Linked DNA regions of Homo sapiens. The protein of the gene in region 2 purifies or fractionates together with the protein of the main gene of each other region. This does not show direct contact. Each region holds a gene or a part of one and is shown on either strand. Other genes may lie near its edges.

Region 1 (3,600 bases), on a different chromosome or scaffold from region 2:
GAGAAAACACCAGGAGACTCCCCTGGCAGGACAAGGAGACCCGGGGTGGTAGGTGCCACATACCCAGCGTCAGAGCTGTTCCCACACAGTAACACATCAGAGGTGCCGTTCTTGAGCAGGTAATTTTCTGTAAGAGAAACATCATGCTGGTGAGGGGCACTCTGGCCCAAAAGTTTCCGCCTTGCATCCAGGGCTCTGGGGAGGTGGAGACCTCACTAGCGGTCTTCCTTCTTCTCTGCCCCTTCCCTGCCCCTGCCCCTGCCCTCTGCCTGGCCAGGCTTCAGGCAACTCTGGCTGTGCCTCTGGCCTTCCTTCTGTTCCTCTGAAGACATCCTGCTGCCAGTGTCCCCATGCTCTCAGAAGACACGGGAAGCCCTGGGCAGGGCCTCAGCTCTCCCCACAGGAAGCTTCTGCACCCTACCCGAAACCACTCAGGGGGCCCACCAAGGCCAGGAGGCAAGGGTCTGGGCAGTTACGGCTTGGCTGCCGAGTCACTGTGGGGCCTTGGCCGGCTACTGCCCAGCTCTGTACTCACTTCCATCACATAAAATGCTGGAAGTGATGCCTGCAATAGTCACCATGCTAACGCTGTGGTCTGTCCGGATGGGGCTACACCAGACAGGACTGCCCGTCTTGTCCTCTCCTTTCTGTGGCAAGTCATCAGTCCCCAACACTCACCATTACCTGGCTTTGTCTTAGGCGACAGTTGTCAAAGCATGGTCCTCGAACCAGCATCATCAGCATCAAGTGGAAACTGCTTAGAAATGCAACTTCCTGACTGCCACCCAGACCTACTGACTCGGAAACTCTAGGGGTGGGGCCCAGAAGTCTGTTTTCCAGAGCCTTCTAGGTGACTTGGGTGTACATGGAAGTTTTAGAACTGCTGTTATGAGGCCACTGCTGAACTACTCATTGAGTGTCTATGTTTTGTTTTCCAAAGTGGACTGCTGGTGTATGTAAGAGGCCCTAACTTCAGAATGGCCCTCAGGGTCATTCTGGCCCAGGGTCCTGTGGCCTGGAATCTGGCCTTGCAGCAGCATGTACCTCCGAAACAGACCAATGGCTCTAGTCAAGAGTGGTGCTGGCCATCAGCCTGGAGAATGGAAGTGTGAGCCACGGGGCAGTGAAACAACAGAGGGGCTCACACAACTTGGCACAATCATTGGGCTTGTTCCAACCCTCTTGCAGGGTTCTGGGGTACACGTATATGGAACGAGCATCCTGGCAAGGAACACTGACGGCAACTGGGAAATCTCCATGCCAGCTAGGTGGGGCTTCACTCTGAAGCCTCATCAACTACGCTGGCTCCATGTCCACCCCTTTCCTAAGCTGACACTCTGTGGGCAGGCTGGTCACCTTGCCATTGCAACACTCTAGGGTCAGTCCCATCTCCAAATGCCGCAGCCAACTGGCCCTCTATCTAACTCCATACTTTCCACTCCTCAAGCATTGCCTCTCCGTCTAGCCTGGGAAGTCACAAGGCAGGCCCTAAGTCTGCTACCCGTCTGTCCTCTGTCTGGGTCTCTGGGGGATCAGGCAGGGCTTGAACAGCCCTGGAGGCCTGCCCTCTGGTGACGCGTGTGTGGGAGGTGACCCCGGTCTGCTGGTCTCACAAAGTCTTCCCCAGCTGCAGAGCAAGTTCGCACCTGGATCACTGAGGTAAAGGTCCAGGGATTCCCAGACCAAGCCGTCGGCCTCCACGGAGCCGTTGGTGCCGTTGAGCGCTGTGAAGTTGCGCACGCACTTGTGCCTTAGGTTGCCCATGAAGAGCTGCAGGCCGATGAGGGCAAAGACGCTGAGGCAGAAGACTGTGAGGACCATCACATCAGCCAGCTTCTTCACAGACTGGATCAGGGCCCCCACGATGGTCTTCAGCCCTGGGGAAGGCAAGAACAAGCACGGGGTCACCCAGGGGCACCGAGCTCTGTGCTCCACTGGTGGGGGGCTGGGCCTGAGTTGAGCTGGGGTGGGGCCAGTGTAGGCAACCAGAGGTGGGGACAGAATAAGGGAGGCTTCTCCTGGGCTTTGAGACCCAAGCCCCACTTTCCTCACAGCTGAGATTCTGTCCTGATTTCCCTGGGCAGGAGTCTAGGCTGGCTTTGTAGTTTCAGAGGGAGCCTGCTCCTCTTTGCTCTCCACCAGCCAAATATATGGCATGGGTGTGGAAAGTGCTGCTTTCTTGAGACAACACATACTCAGAGCATGACCCCCTTTGGCTAGTCTGAAGGTGTGCTAGGCCTACCCCTTTTAATGTAGTCCATGGAAAAGGAGATGGAGGCAATTGAGGGGCCTCAGCCTTGATCTTGAGATGGGGAGAAATAGAGCCATTCCTGCTGGAGGTCCTCCTGCCCCACTGCTGGGGCTGGCTCTATTTGATGTACAGGGAGTGTGGATTGTTTGGAGGAAACTAGGGGCCCAGGGTCTGGTCGGGTAGGGGCTGAGGGCTGTGGTCAGGTGTGTGCTGGGGGCTGTGGGTGACGGTCTGGCGGGGTCATGGCGGGTGATGTCTAAGGGGCCTGCGCTGGCTCAGGCCCACCTTTAGGGAAGGTTCAGGAACAGGACTGACCTGCATTGCATCTTCTCACTTGCCCTGTCCCTCTAGAACCTCCCCACACCCCCATCCATCCCATTTCCCATAGCTGAGAGGCTGTGTTCTGTTAGTTGCACAGCCTAGCTCCCTGCAGAAGCCAGCACCACATAGCAGAATGACAGAAAAGCATGTGTAGACACCAGTCTGGCCCTTAGCGACTGTCCTAGGACAAGTGCAAGCAGAGCATGGGGAATGAGGAGGCTCCTCTGCCAGCGGCAGGGCCCTGCCCCTCATGTCCCTGTCCCAAGCGGCCAGATCTCAGATTAAGCTCCATCCATCCACTGTCCAGCCGGTTAATGTGTTAGGAGCGCCTGTGGCTTCTGTGCCTGCTGCTGCTGGGCCTGTGACCCACAGGCAGGGAGGCCATGATGAGCAAACACAAGATGGGGAGAGGATGACCTCCCCATGGTGCCACTGACATTGCTGCCCACCCAGGGCTCAGAGGCACTCAGCCTTCCTTGTGGAAATCGTTCCTGGCAGATGTTGGCAACTGCCTGGGCAGTGGGTGGACCTCACAGGTCTGGGTCCAGAGTAGTGGCGGTGGTGAGATTCACAAGCTCTTCATGGTCCAGAGCTCCTCATCTGTAACAGAGCTTCCTGTACCCTTTGGTGGGTTTACTGGGCTGGAGACCTGCATGTCTCGAAGGGAACAAAGTGAAGACTGATGGACAGCAGCTCCAATACCCAAACTGGTCTCTGCCTCAATTGTTAGGCTAAAGTCTCTTTGGCCTGAAGTATCCCATTCAAGGCCAGCAAAGCACCCCCTGACCTGGTCTGTGGACATAGTGGCCAAGGGTAACTCACCCCTTTGAACATTTCTCATACTGATGATAGATTTCACTTCTGGCAAGAATGGTTGCAACGAAACTGCAGGATTCTTTCTGAAAAGACCCAGGAAGGGATTGGCCCCAGGAGATCAACTGGGAAATCCTCCTGCCACTGAATTAACAGGCTGGGTGGAAGAGCCCTTGGAAATCACCAATTCTGATTTCACTCTCATTTTATGGAAA
Region 2 (3,270 bases):
CTGACCTCCACCCCCCGCGCGCCCTCACCAGGCTGATGAGTTGCGCCAGGATGAGACCAACGCTGACCCTGACACGGTCTCCCACCTCCCGCGCTGGCCGCACGGAGCTATCATAGCCAGAGAAAAGTTTCTCCCGGAGTCGACCCTCCGCCTCCGAGCCGCGGACGCCTGGGGGAGGAGAGAATAAGTGCAGCCCTGGTGCCTGGCCACGACCGCTGGCCCCGTCACTGCCCCTTCGGGGCCTACACTTACCTGGGGCGAGCGGCGCCCCCAGCGCCCCCAGCAGCATCAGCAGAGCCCCTGGGGTCATAGCCTGGCGGCTCGCTCAGTGACTTCGCTCAGAGAGCCGCTGGGACCGCCAGCACAGGGGAAGTGACGAGGAGCCCGGGAATGTGCACCTGTTGCTGGAGGACAGCCGCCAGCCCACCCGCCCCGCCCCCGGGACTTGATCCTGCCTCGAGCAACTGCCAAGCCCGCCACCGACAGATGACAGACAGCACTTCAGTTGTATAAATCGTCTTTAATTGAGAAAGCTGGAGTGGAGACCCGATCCCCTGGGAGCAGTGCCAGGAGTTGGGTGGAGACTGAGTGGGGTTTGTGTGGGTGAGGGGGCATCTACTCCTCTTGCAACAAGCCAGAAGTAGAACAGCCTAAGGAAAAGTGACCTGCCTTGGAGCCTTAGTCCCTCCCTTAGGGCCCCCTCAGCCTACCCTATCCAAGTCTGAGGCTATGGAAGTCTCCCTCCTAGTTCACTAGCAGGTTCCCCATCTTTTCCAGGCTGCCCCTAGCACTCCACGTTTTTCTGAAAAAATCTAGACAGGCCCTTTTTGGGTACCTAAAACCCAGCTGAGGTTGTGAGCTGTAAGGTAAAGCAAGTTCTATCCAATTAGAAGCTGTTGGGGCGTATGAGGTCTGGAGTGCAAGAGGCCTTCACCCTTCTTGGCCTGACCTGTAGGGGAGAAGGGTGAGACTTATTGCTGAATTGGGGTCTCCTCACTGGGAGGGTCAAGGCTGTATCCATTTGTCCTTTTTATTAAGGACATATTACTCTAAGGACCTCAGCTTTAAAGGGGACCTGGAAGGAATTCCTGCTGAGGTAGCTAAGTATTCATGTCCACCCAACACAGATGCAGGTTCAGTCATGCCATAATTTTGACCCCTCCCCCATCCCAGCTTCCCTACTATGAGCCAGGGATCCTTCCAAAATTCCTCTGCCCTTCTCCAGACTCTGTCTCCCTGGCACGACCTCAGCTGGGTTGAAGGAGCTAGAAACTGCATGTAAAAATAAGCTTAGCATTCTATATGGAAGAATCATATTTTTAGAGAATTATCTAGGAAAAACAAGAAATGGTTCTTGATTCATCCAGAAGTGTTTTTATGAATCATAGCTGGGTCTTTTCCAGAACTCATCCGTAATAGGTATCACTCAAGAAGGCGGGAGGGTGGGGCTAGAACTTACTTAGAACAATAATATGGCTATACAGGCCCCAGCTCCATCCTGGGTAAAAGGGCTGAGAGTCATGATCTATGTCCTAGAGCTAGGATTCAGGGGGAAGTACGGCTCCATAAAGCTCTAGAATTGGGTGTCTCTGGGATAAGAAGGTTAAACCCGTGGTCATCTGAGACTGGTTCCGGTTCAGGCCAAAGCCAACAGCTAGACAAGGCCCAAATCTAGCCTCTTTCTACTTGGAAACCAGGGGTCCATCTGAGTCAATGACAGAGGCCTGACAGATCCAGAGAAAAGGCTGGCAGCATGCCTGGGTTCCAGCACAGAGCCCTAGTGCAGAAGTGGCCCTGGCGAGGGTGTCCAGTGTTCCAGAATGTGTCCAGACCAAGGTAGAAGGTAGAGTAGGGAAAGAAGGACACATGAATCCTGAGCTCCAGTGAATCTAGAAATGGCTCAGTGGCAATGAAAAGGGGCACAGGACTCCAGGAACTGGCTGAGCCGGGGTGGGAAGTGTTTATGCCCTGGCTGTCCATGTGGGAACTCCCAGCGCCATCTCAGGAAAAGGCATGGCGTTGTGTGAGTGTGGAAAGAAAGAAGTGATCAGCCAGGACCATCTTCAGACATCCCCCTCTCTGACTCCCTCCTAGGCCCAAAGATCTAAGGGTCTCAGCAGCCTCGGAAGTCACAGTCAGCCCCTAGGCTCCCTCAGGGTAGAGCACCTAGTGGGACCTGGCTGCTCAGGGCATGTGTGTGGCAGCAGGGGTGAGAGCAGGACTGGGAGACAGGTTGTGGTGGTGGCTGGCTCACTGGGAGTGCAGGGAACCTCCAGTCCAGGGACTACATTTCAGGGGGCAGGGGGACTGGAAGGGGAGGCCTCGGGGACACTGTGGAGAGAAGGCTCCTGGTACATGGCCACTGTGAAGGGGAGAAAGAGAGGAGCAGGGAAGGAGAGTTAGGCACAGAGGGACCCAGGCAGAACCAGTGCTCCAAAAGGGCTCCCTTCCCGTACATTCACCCTCCAAGAACCCCAACCCCACAGGAGGACCGCACCCAAACCCCCAAAGGGCAAAGCCTTCCTGGCTTGATCTGTCACAAAGGGTCCTCTTATCACTTGTAGCCTGAGCTGTCTGCCCCTAAATGTCCATATCAAGGTCAATACCCTCTCCTGTGGCCCACATTTTCTTGAGTCTATACCCACCCTCCAGGAGCTTGGGCAGAAAGTGGGCAGCTGCCTTGGTCTTCTTAACTCGGTTTCCCTTCATGACCTGGCCCTCCTTGTCCAGGCCGAGGTACCAGGCCCGGCCAGAACGACGCTGGCGGTAGAGAGCAGAGGCGTACAGGACGTAGTAATTCTCAAAGACACACTCCTTAAAGCGACACTCAGCTGTGAAATGCGGCTAAGGAGACAAAGACCCAGAAAGGCGCACAAAGACAGAGAGATAAAAAGACACATCACTGGGCAGAAAGGAGCTCATGGAAAGCACAAATCCTTTTTGGGGGAGGGGGAGGACAACTTCTGAGTCCATGTAGGACCTGGGAGCAAAGGGAGGACAAGGAAGAGGGCTGAGGGCTAAGAACTAGGCTCTGGGCCAAGCACAGTGGCTCATGCCTATAATCCCAACACTTTGGGAGGCCGAGGCGGGTGGATCACCTGAGGTCAGGAGTTCCAGACCAGCCTGGCCAACATAGCAAGACCCTGTCACTATTTAAAAAAAAAAAAAAGAACTAGACTTTTAGGGGTCTTGCAATAAGATTCCTTCTCTCCACTGTACTCCCAGTCTCTCACTATCCCCTATCCTGGATGACTCTAGGGAAGTGAGTAA

What was found. The genes of interacting proteins can lie anywhere in the genome.
Region 1: the proteins of FGF11 (region 2) and SCN5A purify together in Homo sapiens (co-immunoprecipitation; 2 studies listed by BioGRID and IntAct, with this or other methods). This does not show direct contact.

Annotation. Positions count from the first base shown.
Region 1 is NC_000003.12:38,608,088-38,611,687, forward strand, and holds part of SCN5A (sodium channel protein type 5 subunit alpha), read right to left. Parts: intron 1,878-3,600; coding exon 1,647-1,877; intron 128-1,646; coding exon 64-127; intron 1-63. UniProt on the Homo sapiens protein: Pore-forming subunit of Nav1.5, a voltage-gated sodium (Nav) channel that directly mediates the depolarizing phase of action potentials in excitable membranes.
Region 2 is NC_000017.11:7,442,168-7,445,437, reverse strand, and holds the end of FGF11 (fibroblast growth factor 11), read right to left. Parts: intron 2,845-3,270; coding exon 2,646-2,844; intron 2,363-2,645; coding exon 2,292-2,362; 3' UTR 501-2,291; downstream 1-500. Other genes in the region: CHRNB1 (acetylcholine receptor subunit beta precursor), read right to left, coding at 29-168, 253-310.